Linked DNA regions of Homo sapiens: region 2 is linked to region 1. The links come from fine-mapping of genetic effects on gene expression. Tissue or cell type: whole blood. Region 1 holds a variant in brackets; the other region holds the start of a gene. All regions are shown on one strand. Distances are between the middles of the regions.

Region 1 (8,000 bases):
GGACAAATATTCAGTCCATAACAATGTCTGATCCCATCTAAGGCCTTTTCTCACTTGTCCCTCTTGCCTGGCATGTCCCACCCCTCCCCGCGGGCCTGGCTCAGCGTTCATCTCCTCCATGCAGCTTCTGTGAATGCCCAAGCCCCTGGTGAGCTCCTACCTCTGCATGCCTGTGGCTCTGGAGCTCTGACTTGGTGGGTGCTCCCACGTATAGGGAAGCAACACATGCACCAATCATTAACCCTCCAATTAGCCATAGCCCCGGGAGGGCAGTGAGGTGGCTTCTTTGTACCTTCCACCACTCAGTAGATAATCAGTGCTCAATAAATGGATGCAAAATGAGTTTCATGACAGCTTTGTCCCTCAACTTTCCTTCCTTTGGAACAAGCCTGAGGTGTCTTTGACCTGATGTTCCCCTTGGTGAGTTGTGTTCACTCAAGGAGAGGGACAGAGACTGACCCATCTGTGTTCTCTCTCCAGCCCAGCCGACCTAAGTACAGACCCCCTCCGCAAACCAACCTCCTGGCTCCAAAGCTGCAGTTCCAGGTAAAGATAGAACCAGAGGACGGGAACTTCAGGTCTACCTCTCATCCAGGTCCTGAAACTCCATTCTTGTGCCTTAGAGGAGCAGCAGTCACCCACTTGGGTGATGGAGATGGCCTAGGTTGACTCTTCTTTGGCACCCAGAACAGAATGCAGACTCAGATCACAAGAATTAAAATGCAGTTCTCCCAGGCTGTGCTCAGCTAAGACCTGCCTTAAGCCCCATCCCTCTGTCTACATCATCTGCTGCTTTGTGTGCCTGCCTGCTGCTCTCTCCCCACATCTAAGGCCTCCCTGGCCTCCTTACCAGAAGGAATCCCAGGGAATATTTCCCAACAAATGGAGTAGCTCCATGGGACTCCCCAAAGAGGCCCCATCCAGAACCTGGGTGGCCATTGAAGAGACAGCAGGGTTTTACCTGAGCTTTCTCCCAGCTCCATTATCCCCAACCATGACTCTTTCCCAGGCTGTGCGTCCCTGACCCTGAATGTCTCTGTTCTGTGTCTCTCTTGCCTCTAGGAGAGAGGGAGTCCAGTCTCCTCTTATTTCTTCTCTTGCATCCCCCAGCTCAGAGCCACTGCTCAAAAATTGATCCCCTCAACCACCAGAAATAATGTCCATTTAGTTGGTGCCCTTTATAGAAAGGTGGTGTCCCATGGTCCTATATTTGTTCTCAAGGAAATGCCTGAGTGCCAAAACAAGACCATCTAAGGACTAATAGATAAATCCTCTTCACGTGAAGAGAAAGCCTGATTCAGAAGATGGAAAAATCGTTCTGAAAAAAAAGAGATATACCCATGTGCAATATTTAAAACAGGGAGTTAGGTAGGGTGGAACACACCTGTAGTCCCAGCTACTAAGGAGGGTGAGATGGGAGGATTCATTGAGCTCAGGAGTTTGAGACCAGCCTGGGCAATATAGTGAGACCCCATCTCTAAAAACAAATAGTAATACAATAAAATTGTGATATACTTATTTTTTAATTAAAAAAAATTCAAGGCAGGCATGGTGGCATGCATCCGTAGTCCCAGCTATGTGGGAGGCTGAGGCAAGAGGATTACTTGAGGCCAAGAGTTTAAGGCTGCAGTGAGCTGTGATCATACCACTGCATCCCAGCCTGGGCAACAGAGCAAGAGCCTATCTGAATTTTTAAAAAACAATTCATACATATCTGTATAAATTGGTGTGTTAACCACATCAGTCAGTCTGTAATGCAACTGAAACAACTATTTTTTGAAGAGTCCTGAAGGAAGAGCCCTGGTCTCAGTGGGTCCGTAACCAGCATGGACCCCACTGTGTGCAGAGCATCTTGGGGGAATGTTGGATGAATGAGAGGCTGCACTGCTCCACCATCTCTCTCGGAGCAATGGAAGGCCCACGTTTTGTTCTTTATTAACTCCTGGAGAGCAAGCCCCATTCCCTGTGGTGCTCATGCATAGTTTCTTTGTGCTCGTGTTTGTAGCAGCTAATTGTCTACCTTCTCGCTTTGTCCCGTGCCTTGTGCTTCTTTGCTTTTCCTGAATAGGTTCCTGAGGGTCTGTGTGCCAGCTCTCCTACGCTCACCAGCCCTATGGAGTATCCATCTCCCGTTAACTCACTGCACACCCCACCTCTCCACCGGCACAATGTCTTCAAACGCCACAGCATGCGGGTAAGAGGGCTCTGCATGCTGGTCCCTGCCCGGACTGAGGAGGCTGCTGGAGGGAGGTGGCCGGGGACACTGGAAACCCCACGTCCTCAGCTCAGGAGGGCCCTTCCTGTTCCCATGCACCAGTCAGGCCACTGAGGTGGCACTCTGTGACTTCCTTCCCTTTGCAAACACATCAGAGGCTGGCAGCCACACCAGGCCCTGCTCTGGAGGACACCAGCTGGACCTAACCTGCCCTTGGCCATGCTGGTGCTATGGCTAGAGATGTACAAATCTCCCCCTCTCCTGAGCCCCAGGGGTAGGGGGATCTGTGGCAGCTTGGAGGCTCCTAGGCAGGGCACAGCACAGCTTAGTGGTGCTGGAGAGTATCCTTCCTAAATGATGGCTTTGGGTGTGAAATCTCTCCTCAGTCAAAGGAAAGGCTTTCTTGTGGCTGCTCCCCTTTCTGCTTTTGTTCAGGCTGCTGCTGGGTGAGAAGGAGTTTAGGGCTAGTGGGAATACAGCCTCATTAACTGGCTAGAGCAGGGACCTAAGCCACTTCCCTTGTCAGCTCTTTGTCACGGGGGGTTGTTAACTGCTGGTGAAGCCCGGAGTGCTTCATGGCTGGCTTCTGATTGTCAGGTCTTGTGTGAAAAAGACACTTTTGCTTATAACCAGATGCCCACTGGTCACCAACCACCTTCTTCCATACAAATGGCCCCTAGTGGTCAGTTGCCACGAACACTTGATCTATTTTACTAAACCAACTAAAACACTTATTTTAGCTCTAACTCTGCATGCATGCACAATATTTCAGGCTCACTAAACATGACTAAAATATTTTTTGAAAAAAATTAGATGTTTATCATAATATATTTGGAAGATGTAGGCAAGTATGCTGATATTACTTTCATGCCATTATGCTTAATTTAGTAGAATTTTGAAATGAGCATGATAACTTAGAATTCCAGACACTAAGATTTTTTGTGAAATCAATTTTCCTCTGACCTACCTCGTTTTTCTCTTTTATATTAATTTAACCAATTTCTGTCTTTGCGTGTGCTTAACAATAATAAACTACATTTTTAGGCATGTGCTATAATTTAGGCTGTGTTCGGTTTCTCCACCCTCCTGCCTTTGACTCTCTATTCATAAATGATTGTTTTAGTAAGTTTTGCTTTAAATTGTGTTATTTTAGAAAGAAGCTATTTTGCACATTTGAGGGGTAGCATTGCCTTCGTCCAATTTCCTGCTTCTCCACAAGGACCTTGTTCAGTTCCATAAAGAGATTGTGCAGTAGGAAAAAAGACCTTTTGTATCAGGGCTTTAGAAGTAATTGACATAAGGAAAATCTGCCTAAAAGAACATAATGAGCATGTCTTTAAATAAACAAACCCAAAAAAGTTAAAAATATAAGCTCCATTTTATGACACAGATCAGAAACACTGAGAAAGTCTCTTCCAGGTAGAATGCTGAGAAGGTATAATAGGCTCCTCACAAAGCATTTGGAAGCATTTAACAAAAATACAGAGGTGGTGTTCCCAGAAAAACAGTTTTTCTACTGAGTGGCTCTATAGCCTGACTCATCAGGGAGTCTGTGGGATGCCATACCAGCATTGGGATGGCAGCAGTCTCTCTCCTGAAGACCTCACAATTGAGCTTTAAAAATAATACAATTCAAGGCCAGGCGTGGTGGCTCACGCCTGTAATCCCAGCATTTTGGGAGGCCAAGGTGGGTGGATCACTTGATGTCAGGAGTCTGAGACCAGCCTGGCCATCATGGCAAAACCCCATCTGTACTAAAAATACAAAAAATTAGTCAGGCATGGTAGTGTGCACCTGTAATCCCAGCTACTCAGGAGGCTGAGGCAGGAGATCACTTGAACCTGGGAGGCAGAGGTTGCAGTGAGCTGAGATCACGCCACTGCACTCCAACCTGGGCAACAGAGCAAAACCCTGTCTCAAAAATAAAAATAAATAAAATAAAAATAATACAATTCAATAAACAGTAGGGCTTGCTGTGATTGCTGGACGCTGTCCTCGGTGCTGAAGGGGGGAGGCGCTGCTTTCAAAGCGCTTACAGTCGACCAGAAGGATCAGACCAGGTGCACACTTACCTGTAATGCAAGCCAGAAGGTCGTGGGTACCACAAAGTGGGAGTTCAGAGAGGAGGACAACCCTTTCCAGCTTCTATTTAAAAGTTGGGCCTTGAAAGATGGGAAAGATGTGGACAGGAGGAAACTGAGATTCAGGGAATGGAAGAGGCAGGGGCTTCAGTAGGAGGCAAGACTGAGTGGTGGGAAACCACAGGACAAGTGCAAGAACTGTTGGACTACAGCAGGAAGGGTACTTGTGGATGTGGAAATAAAGCCAACAGATGGGTCATAGCCAGATTATGGAAGGTGTCACAACTTACGAGAGTCATTTTAAAACACCATGAGTACCCAATTCCTTTTAAGAATAGAATGTAATGAGCAATGTAAGTATCCATTACCTAATAAGAATATTGGAGGCGCATTTCAGCAAAACCAACCTCAAAGAGATTCCATTTTTTTGAGTGTTCATTTTTCTCCTTGAGTTTTATTATGAAATTGGAAGGCATCAGGATGTCTCCTAATCTGTGTTTGTTAGAATATGTGGTACGATCAGGCCTGAGGCATGCTAGGCATTTTAGTGGTGGAATCTTCTGT[C/T]AACACTTATAAACTTACAAATACTTACAAATACTTGTAGAATTTTCTTGATTCTAGTAGCTCATCCAACTGGTACTTACCATACTCTTCCTTAACCCATACATTTTTCTCACATCCAGAAATCCCTAACTCTATATTTAGAACTTTTGACACTTAGTTCCTGTTTGTCACTATTTGTCAACAGCCTGGGGCAGCCATGCCATTGTGTCTGCAGGTGTTGACATTTAACTGGGGATTTTTATGGCCTTAAAATGTCCTCATTTTTGAGTATCAGCCTCTGATCAACAAAACCTATTTTATTTTTATCAATTCCATGATTATAAAATACTCTTATATGCTGGAATTTGTTTTCCTAAAATAAGGTCTAGCTCAGTGGTTCTCAGCTAAGTTATTTTCCCTCTGAGAGGACATTTGACAATGTCTGGCAGCATTTTTGTTACAACTGGGGTGGTGCTATAGGCATATATTGTGGGGAGGCCAGAGATGCTGCTAAGCATCGTACAATGCACAGGAAATTGCCCTGGAAATAAGGACTTGTCTGGCTCCAAATGTCAGTAGTGCTGAGGTTGAGGAGCCTTGGTCTGACTAGTATTTACTTAACCCCACGAGAATAAGAACATCGTATAGTTTAACATCACTGTCCTCCCAGCACCCAGCCCTGCCACATAGTAGTTGCTTAATAAATAATTGTTGAATAGATTAATGAATAAATATTTCAGCAAGAAACCTAACTCATGGGGAAACGTGTGATTAGAAATTGAGGTTAGTAATTGAAGCTCAGTGTGCACTAAGTAAAACATCCCAATATAACCACTTTTAGACCATATTGTAATATTCAAGTGTGTTTTGTAGGGCTTAGTGAGGAAACTCTTTTAAGAGGCTTGGTAGGAATTATTGCTTGCTAAAAGTAGATAGAGATAATTGTTAGCATCTTCTGCAAGTGACCTGTATGCAAATGGCCACTTCAAAGGCAAGGAACTGAGGGACCTGCCAGCTTAGATGTCACAGAAGAATCCTGCCCTAGCAAAGGCAACTCCTGGGCTTTGTGCAATCAAGAGGATGCCAATAATATTCCTCCTCCATCTGTCCAGGAGGCCAGGGTCCCCATGTGCAGCACAACAAGAGCAAAATAGTTTAGAGACACTGAGCAGATATTTATACAAATGAACCGTGGGGGAAGACTGAATGAAAATAGGAAGACATGCAATACTTTCTGTTTAGGAACTAGCAGCTAAAATTATGAATAGGTCCAAAGCCCCAGAGGTAAGTTAAAGCAAGAGTTAGATTACTAGATCTAGGGAGAGGAAGCATTTATCTTCTCTCTATCAAACTATATTTCTTTGAATTTTGTTTTTCATTTTATCTATTAGTTCATGAATTTCTTCTAATCATTGGTTAAATAACTCAAGCTATGATTGCATTTATCTTATCTCTATAGAGCTGTATTTCATGAAATTTTGTTCCTTATTTTATCTCTTAGCTCATGCATTTCTCCTAACATTTAGTTAAATAACCCAAGCTATTATCTTAATAAAGAATGTGTCTTAATAGGAAGGCATGGTTGGTGGGTGCATGCTGTTGCTTGTTCTCTCAGGCTCTGCTCATTCATGGACACACGTGGGACTGCACACCGTGAGGCTAGAGGCAGCACCCCTGTCTCTCGAAGCTTCCAGACCTGCCACCTTGGTCCTTAGGTGGAGATAGCATCAGAAGGGTGTGATGCTCTCCAACTAAGCAAAGCCAGCCCCTTGGAAACCCTTTGGATGCTTTTAGTAGATTTTAAAATAGATTTTAATAGACTTTAATAGCTTTTCTTTTTAAAATATATTAAATGACAACAACCATCACAAACACTGAGATAATAGTAGGGCAGTCACTTGGTAAAATATCATGAGCAGATCGTGTAATCATTTGAATACAGCGCACGTTGAGCAGTGGGTTCTTGGGTTTGGTATCACATTGCAACGCAGATACATGCTCGGGGCTGATACTGGATAGCTGTCTGCACATATAGCTCTGGGTTTAAGAACAAACTTATGAGAAAAAAGCAGCTGGCCAGGCCAAGGCTTGCAGCTGCCATGAGGTTCTTCAGAGGACTGTCCCTCCCTGAGTCTGAGAGCAGGGCTCATTGCATCCTCTCCCTTCTCTCTGCCGTCCTCCCAGGAGGAGGACTTCATCCAACCCAGCAGCCGAGAAGAGGCCCAGCAGCTGTGGGAGGCTGAAAAGGTCAAAATGCGGCAAATCCTGGACAAACAGCAGAAGCAGATGGTGGAGGACTACCAGTGGCTCAGGCAGGAGGAGAAGTCCCTGGTGAGCACCCCAGGAAGGATGTCGGTGCCCTGCACCCATCTGTGTCCTCTTCCACCTCCCCAGGTGGCTGGGGCAAGGGTCCCCTGCATTCTTGGTGCTTTCAGCTCCAGAATTCTTAGTCCTTCGCTCTTGTTTCTTCCTCTGCAGGACCCCATGGTTTATATGAATGATAAGTCCCCATTGGTGAGTTGCCAGGAGAGGCCGCCTCCTCCATGCCAAGGCCTGGGAAGGCCTCGCCCACCATAGGACCCCCCGCCCAACTTGCTCCTACCCCCAGGCCTGCCCAGCTCCTCCTCAATGGCTTTCCATGTTGGGAGGGTGTCTTTTCCTTTTCTGCCAATCCCTACATGGCCCTTTTCCTGAACTCTCCTGTGATCGTGCCCTTAGTGCTGTCTGTGGCCCTCCCCAGGGCCCCTCGGCCTCCCAGAAAGGTCACATTGGGTCACGAGCTGCTCCCAGAAGCACCCCCGACCCCATGGCTGTAATCTCTAAACACACAGTGGAGGGACTGGGGAATGGGTAACCAGGGAGGGGGTTGTCTCCACAGCCGCATGAGTGACGTTCCTGTTCTCTTTCCTCCTTCCTCCAGACGCCAGAGAAGGAGGTCGGCTACCGTGAGTGTTCCCGCCCTTCTTCGGGGGGTTTCCTCTTGGCACCTTGTGCAGAGCCACCATCCTTGCCCACCGCCCAGGGCAGGGAGCAGCGGAGTCTGTCTGCATTCCCTGCAGCATCGGCCATGATTTAATTCAGAGCATGTGGGGCAGGCCAGCTTCCCCTCCGCTCCCTCCACCCCATTCCTCTCCCTGCCTAGCACCCTGCCCTTCTCTCTC
Region 2 (8,140 bases), 120 kb before region 1:
ATGCCTTCCCTTAAAGTGCCACCCTTTGAGAACCTCTGCAACTTCAGCTCTGAACCATGTTCTTTTGGGTTTTTAGGAAGGCTTCTTTATGTAGGCATGACTGATTACAGTATTGGCCATGGGTGATCAACTCAACCTTCAGCCCCTTTCCTTCCCCAAGTTTTAGGGATAGCGCTGAAAGTTCAGCCTTCTCATCATACCTCAGTTTTTCTGATGACCAGCCCTCATCCTGAAGCTATCTAAGGGATCTAAGATACCTAAGCCACCAGGCATCTCATTGGCATACAAAAGGCTTTTTTTTTTTTTTTTTTTTTTTTTTTTTGAGACAGGGTGTTGCTCTGTTGCCCAAGCTAAATTCATCCACTGGTGCAATCATAGCTCATTGCATCCTCAGTCTCCTGGGCTCAAGCAATCCTCTTGCATCAGCCTCCCAAGCAGCTAAAACTACAGGTGCATACCACCATGCCCAGCTAATTTTTGTATTTTTTTGTACAGATGAAGTCTTGCCACGTTGGCCAGGCTGGCCTCGAACTCTTGGCCTCAAGCAATCCTCCCACCTCAGCCTCTCAAAGTGTTTGGATTATAGGCATGAGCCACCATGCCTGGCCTCAAAAAAACATTCTTAACACTCCAGAAATTCCAAGGGTTTTAGAAGTTGTGTGCACGGTCAGAGACCAAATATATATTTCTTATTATGTCATAGTATCACCGATGCAGTTCAGGCTATGGTAACAGAAAGGCCAAAATAAAGTAACCCAAGCAACTTAAATTTCTTTCTCATGTAAAAGTTAAACTAGGTTCAGACTATGTCCAGGGTAAGCATGGTGGCTGGACGGCATTAGGTACCCGGATTCTTAACATCATAGACTGGATGGCTGCTCCAGGTTTCATTGTCAGGTGGAGGTGGAAAAGATAAAGTGGAAAATATTGGAGGATGTGCTCATTCCCTTGAGGGGCATGATTCTGGAGTTGCGTGCATAACTTCTACTCTTCAACCATTGCGGAGAACTTAATCACATGGTCGCACCTGGTCACACATGCAAGGGAGACTGGGAAATGTAGCCTTCATTTTGGGCAGGCTGTGACCATCTGAAAGTCAGGGATTCCAATATTAAGGAAAGAAAAGAGAAAGTTCTTTTTTAGGTTGAGGGCATGATTTTGAGTTCTATTCAAGCCATACTCAACTTATTTTGGCCTCAACTGTGGCCCACTTCGTAAACATAGTGATGTCTGGTTAAATTAGAGGTAGACATCCCTTGGTGATGAAGTACTTTTTTCAGTACTTGTACCCATAAGTTTTTCTTTGTCCCTTTTTTTTTTTAAATGGACTATCACTCTGTCACCCAGGCTGGAGTGCAGTGGCATGATTATAGCTCACTGTAACCTCTGCCTCCCAGGTTCAAGCGATTCTCCTGCCTCAGCCCCACCAAGGAGCTGGGACTACAGGCATACACCACTATGCCCAGCTAGTTTTTGTATTTATCCATTTTTTTTGTTAGAATACTTATAACCATACTGTTCTTTTAAAATAAAATTTATTCTACATAATAGTAAATTTACATGATGTAATTTAAATTCCATCATTTACAATGGAGAGATGCCAGTTACATAATGTCGCAGCCCTGCCAATGATGGGTTTTGCTCTTTACCACCTGGGAGCCTGTGAATAATTTATTTACCTTATCCAAGCTTCCTTTTCCTTTCTGCAAACCAGGAATAGGACTAGCAACTTCATAGACGGTTGTGAAGACAAGCTAGACGGCAGATGAAAGTTCTTGGCACAGAGTGAACACTTGATAAACTATATGGCAGGTATGTATGTACTATCTCCCCATAAAGCTTACTTTAATTGCTATCATTTCTAAAAATTATAGCTATAGAATTTTTCATAGCATTTGTACACCTATCACTTAATTTGGGCTTCACAATACCCTGGGAAACAGGTAGAACAGATAATACTTATTTTTCTACTTTTCTAGATTAGGAAATAAAAGCTCAGAAAGATGGATTCGCATGTCCAAAGTCACAACCTCTTCCCTCTTGACTGGATCCTTCCTGTGAGCATTGAAACCTGCTCTACTGGCTATCATCCTAAATGACAAATCAGTCCTCTTTCAACCCACGACCCCCTCCAATATCCCCTGGTCTCAATTGCCCTTGGCAGTCAAGCTTTCCAGGACTCATCAGCGCGTGCCGCCTCTGTGTCTTCACTTTCAGTTTACTTATCAGCCCACCCCACTTGACCTTTGGCTCTTCATTCATTTGCTCCTGGTAAGAGCTTCACTTGAAGTCCTCTGCTGTCTCTGACTCTTGCCTTAGACAAGTTTATCCATTCTTGTGGTTTCAAATGCCATCCCAAAAGTTAATCACCAGCTCAACCACCTTTGTGATCTCCAGTTAGTGAAAAGATAAGAAAAGAGAACCTGAACCAGGATGGGTCAATAGGACAGGAAAGAAAACGAGGAATAGGAAAAAAGTTTGTGGGACTCCCAGGACTTAGAGATTGGAGATTGCATGGCTGCAGGGTAAGGAGGGAGAGGGAGAGTCAAAGGTGACTTCTCTTTTGTTGACATTCACAGGGAGGGCTGGAACGGGGCTTGTTTGAAGAGCAATATGAGCCAGGGTTATAGACCTGAGTTTGGGGTAAGAGTGGAACATCCAAATGGAAGAGTCCAGCAGCTGAAAGGACATTTGTTCAAAGGCCTTTTTCATTACAGTTTTCTCCTTCTTCTGATCCAGGTATGCATCCCCCCAACACCCCCACAATTAGGGCCTCCCACATGGCACTTGGTCAGCTTGAGATACAGAAGTAGAAGGGAAATATTTTTCTTCTCTAACTGGGGTAGATCATTATTGCAACTTATGCCATATGGAGAGCATCGCCATGGATAGTGTCTTTTAGGGATTTCCATGGAATTTGAGGGCTCCTGAGGCATTTCTGATGGGTTTTTTTAAAAGGCAGTAACAGGCAGAAATGCATGACCTTGTCACCTGAGTTGCTTGTACATGACACTGGACAGAACCTAGGGAGACCTGATGGCGGAGTTGGCCACCCCAGAGAGTTTCTCAATGTCTTTTTCATTTAAAAAGCTATGGGTTTATGATTCTGTGAGGTAGATTTGGGAGATTCTTTTTTTAAAGTGCTGAAGAATTCAACAACCTCTGAAAACTCACCTTTCCCAGAATTGGTCCCAGCAAGATAAGATTGTAGTTCATTTATGTGGCCACACAGGGGCAGCACACACAAACTCTCCTTTTCTTAAACAGGTCTTGATTGTCTTTGCTTTTAGTTCCCACTGCCACCTCCTAGTACAGACTCTCAACAACTCACCCAGGTATCTAACTTTTGTGCCACTCAGCCTTCATCACTTCATTTCCAAGCGCAAGAATACGGAGGGGACACCCACTGTCAGATGCCCTCTGACCATGTCCTTGCCATGTAGTCAATTACCTGCCTCCTCATCCCCACACCTTCCCTGCTAACTTCAGTGTACCTCTGTCTGACTTGCCTCTCCATCCCTGGCCAAGTTCTCCCACCTGACCACCTTCTGACCTGCTGACCGCTGTGTAGTCACCAAGATTACCTCCAAAATGCTGAGTGCTGGGAACGTGACAAATCTGTGAATAGCACAAATGGGAAGGGGTGGGGGGGCTCCAGCTGTCAAGGCTGGCAGTGCCCATCAATGGGTTGTGAGCCCCATGCTGGGCAGGTGGGCCCTAGCTGCAGAGAGTCTGATCTTCATCGGACCCAGAGTGACATCCAGCCAATAGCTATGGGTAGTCCACTAATTATACTTTGAGAAACATTGACTTCCTAGCTTTGTTAACTTATCTAAGTCTCCAGTTTCTTTTCAGAAATGGGAAGGAGTCAGTGCAATCTTGGAAACTGAGTGCTTCCTCAGCACAACTCCAGGGGGCGCCATTCTCAGAAAGTACATTGTGAATAGCATCCTCTAGAATTGTGCAACAGGGCAGCTCTGGGAATCAGATTCCAATCCTGCACAGGACACAGAATAAAGAAGCTTGGGACAGGGGCTCTGGAGAGGACATTGTAGGATGAGGATGATGCTGCGTACACTCCACTTTTTTCACTTTATGCCAAGTCCAGGTCACTTCCTCCTCCTACTCAGGAGCAAGTCTGGAGTTTTCCTAGGGATAGGGAAGAAGTGTTGCTAAGTGCCCTTGAGTGCCTGCTCACATATCACCGGCCTGAGGAAAGAGGGGACCAGCCTCTGGGCGGGGCCCCTGGAAGGGGCTGTCCAGCATCTCTAACTATTCTTGTGCTGTCCTCAGACCCTACTTAGTCACAGCTCAGGGACCTGGTCTTCTGTGTTCAGGGACCTGGACCGGTTCTGCCAAAATCCCTAGTGGTATTTATGATTTTTCATGCCTGCAAAGGGACTGGGGCCACTTTAGGACATGGAGAGATTAGGACACAAGTGCTCAGTACCATGTAGATATAACATCTCCCACTGCGGGGGGTCTTGGGAGAACCAGCCTGAGAAGTTGGTTTCCTCCGCCCGCCCTGCGCCCCCACCCACCTCACACACACCTTTTGGCCTCCAAAAGGCTGCAGGTGGAGTGGACAGAGGATGGAGGGGTGTTAGGAATTGGGGAGTTAACTGCTCACAAGGGGCACATAACATCCGAGGATCCCATTTGCGGCCGGGGGAATGGCAGAGATCGCCCCCCAGGTCTGCCCGGCGCTCAGGGAATTGGTGGCAGCGTCTATTTCAGAGTTTATGGTAAGAGGCTGGAGCCGGCACACACAGACAACACACCCCACCCTTTAAGGAAGTGGGGAGGAGAGCAGCAGGGGTGTGGTTAACAACTCAGAGGAGGAGGGAGAATCTAACCTGTCAGCCCTTTTACTCAGCCACAGCCTCCGGAGCCGTTGCACACCTACCTGCCCGGCCGACTTACCTGTACTTGCCGCCGTCCCGGCTCACCTGGCGGTGCCCGAGGAGTAGTCGCTGGAGTCCGCGCCTCCCTGGGTGAGTCCCTCCCGCGAGCCAGGGCTGAGCGCTGCGCCCGGCAGAAGTTGGAGGCTTGACCGGGTGGCAGGGGTTGGGGACAATTCCGGGATCCTGGGCACCTGAGCTGGGAGTTCCCGGAGAAACGGCCAGACCCAGGAAATCGGAGCCGTGGGTGCTGTGCACATGCCCGGAGCTCGCCAGCCTTCCGCGGGGAAGAGGGGTTCTATTTTTGGAGTAAATTTGACACTATAGGGTGTTTCTCCCTCTTTGTCCTCTCAACATATTCAGACAGGGGAGGCTGGGGGAGGCTAGGGGTGACGGTGTGAGGGCACAGCCAGGCTGCTGCCTCTAAAGCTCAGGTTAGGGAGCCACGGGGTTTCAGCTCCTGCCCCCGCTCCCCGCTCCCTCCCGGGCCCTTCCGCAGCCCCAGGGGTTATAGTCTCACCCCCAGCCCACCCTGACTCTCCTGCAGCCACTCCTTGCACCTGAGAGGTCATCTTCTGAATCAAGCCCTGGCTGGAGGAAAGCAAGGGTGTTCTGGGGCACAGGGGAGCTCGTGTGTATGTGTGTGTGTGTGTGTGTGTGTGTGTGTGTGTGTAGTTAACACTGGCCATTCTGGTATCTTGAGAAGCCGCCTCCTGAGTGCCACTCAAGGGTTAAGTTCAGAGCTGCCTCTGCCTGCTGTCAGGCTGCGCGTGGGCACCGCTTTGGGTGGGTGAGCGTGGAGCGGCATATGGGTGATGTTCTGCAAGCCCTGCCACCTGCCCTAAGCCTCGACCACATGACACTGGCATCTCCCTATACCCCAAACTGGGAGCAAAATCCAAGTCCGCTCATTTAAGGAGCCAGCAGAAGGACAAGAGCAGAAAGTTGTGCCTAGAGGTGGCTTTAGCCAGGAGGAACTCGGAAGCTGCGCTGTGGCTGGGTCTGAGCCCACTGGGGCAGTGCACGTGGTGTGATGTGGTGGTGGGTGCTGGGAGGCCCCTCTACGTGGGATGCTCTCTGTTCACCCCAAGTGCTGTTGCTGAAGGCCCTGTCTTTCCCAACCACTCTGGGGGAGGGGGAGGAGGACACTGATGAAAAAGTGACTAAAGACAGAAGGGAGGAAGGAAGTAGTCACACTGGAGAGCCCCAGCATTGGTGGGACAGTCTGCAGTCATCCATTCAGGAGGCACTCACTGGCTTCCCACCTGCGGCCAGGTGCAAGGTGTGGGGACAAGGTGAGTGTGGCATGGCCTCTGCTCACCAGGGCAGTGTGGGATACCGGGTGGTTGAGGGAGGGCTGCCAGGGGAAGGTGCAGGGTACTATCCAACCCTGCACTAGAGGGCTGTGGGGGGAGCCAGTCAGCAATGGCCAGGAGGGCGTCCTGGCAGAAGTGACTCCAAATTGAGAGCTGAAGGATGACTAGAAATTAGCACAAGAGAAGAGGGGAAAGAACAGCAAGTGCAGAGACTGGAGGCTAAAAGCAGCAGGAGGCTGGAAGCAGCGGGCGGCATCCAGGAAAATGAAAGTAGCTGGGCTTGTTGGGAACCTAGAGCGTGCAGGGGCGAGGGGAAGCTGCAGGGGTGAGTGGAGACTGCTCTAGAAGGCTTTGGAAGGCCTGCCAGGCTGCCATGGCAACTTCTGTTGGAGCAACACTTGGGACCTGGAGCCAGGCAGGAGACTTCCCAGCAGGAAGAGATTGCCAGATTTAGCCAATAAAAGCACGGGACACTCAGATTTGAATTTCAGATAAGCACTCAATGGTTTTTTTTTTCACTACAAATATGTCTCATGAACTACATGGAACATACTTATACTCAAACATTATTCACTGTTTCTCTGAAATTCACATTTAACTGGGTGTCCTGTATTTATCTGGCAACCCTACTCTAGGAGAAGCTGAGGTTGGCGCAATGCTGTGAAGTAAAGGCTGGAAACTGCCCAGGCACTCTGAGAACAGTCTCAGGTCTATCTTGTAACCATTCCTCCTGGATTTTATTATGAGCTCATTTAAAAAACAAAAAATCAATTCCTTGGTCAGTTTATTCATCTATACAGGTGAAGGAGTATGGTACCTCAGAAAAAACGACATTAAATCCAGACAGATCTGGGTTCAAATCCATGTAGACCGGTGAGCTTCTCTGACCCTCAGAATCCTCTTTTCTGAAATGAGGGCAGGAGTATCTGTTTGTGCAGGTGGTTGGGAGGATCCCTGATAATGTATGTAAATTGCCTAGTGAGTACTAAAGGAAACATGGTACATATTGAATTTTGCAACACCTTCACAGGGTTGAGCAAAGCAACAGCCACAGAGTGCTTGGGTTCATTTACTTCCACAAGTGAGCACTTGGAGGTCTCAGGTGAAATACATAGTAGGGTTCATGCTTCCAGTGAGAACTCGTGGGGTTAGCCCTTGGGTTGGGGACAGAGTCTGCATTATGTTTTTAGCTTTGCTACTCCCTTCCCATATGACCTGCTTCAAGGGGTGGAGATATAACACTCTTCTTGAGGGATGGTGGGTGGGCAGAGAGTGACTCAAAGTAGAATTAACTGAAGGGAAATGTGAATGAATTAAAGTAGAGAATCCAGATAAAATATTCAGCGCAGACAAATGCGCCATGAAATTTGGCTGTCATGATTCCCAGTTTTAGGATGAGTTCCTTATTAGAAAAGTAGCGCTAAGAGATAGAGGAAGTGAAGGTGCCTTATGAACTGGATTTTGACTTTAATGGGAGCATTTGTAACAACAAATTAGGGTCCTCCTAAAAGGGAACCTAGAGGAAGTTAAGAATTCGTTAAGAGAAAGAGGAAATGGAAAGTGTGTTTCCCTTGTGGGAACGGCTAGGTTAAAAATGGTCCTTCTTTCCAGTGGCTAAATCTCCCCATCCCCCTGTGATAAACATTTTGTCCCCAGGCCCTTGGATTGTTTGCCCAGGTGGTGTTGAGAGAGACCCTATGGCGTGAGATGGATAGAGGTGTTCCACTGATGAAACGTTCAAATGAGCCTGCACTTGGACATGTGTCTTGAATATTTGCAAGATCAAGGTTATGATAAGTCCTGCATAAAAAGACACGTGTCATTCCCTGAGGATGGCTGTAGAGCCCATGCACATTCTCAGGGAAACAGCATTCCACATTGAGTGAACCTTGATGTGAGGGCAGTTTGGGGACCAAGCAGGTC

What was found. PIP is the estimated chance that this variant, and not a neighbour inherited with it, causes the effect.
Region 2: PTK2B starts here. The variant in region 1 is fine-mapped to the expression of PTK2B in whole blood (INTERVAL, PIP 0.96).

The regions. Positions count from the first base shown.
Region 1 is chr8:27,443,726-27,451,725 of GRCh38, forward strand. It overlaps PTK2B (protein tyrosine kinase 2 beta), which reads left to right. Exons shown (of 31, transcript NM_173176.3): 23 at 481-546; 24 at 2,069-2,194; 25 at 7,024-7,170; 26 at 7,318-7,353; 27 at 7,760-7,784. Among named protein-coding and RNA genes, the nearest start is that of MIR6842, 14 kb to the left of the region's middle. The variant C/T (reference allele first, on the strand shown) is at 4,861.
Region 2 is chr8:27,320,688-27,328,827 of GRCh38, forward strand. It overlaps PTK2B (protein tyrosine kinase 2 beta), which reads left to right and starts at 4,865. Exons shown (of 31, transcript NM_173176.3): 1 at 4,865-4,994. RefSeq lists enhancers at 4,910-5,059, 5,110-5,159, 5,765-6,594, 5,940-6,009 and a silencer at 6,752-6,948.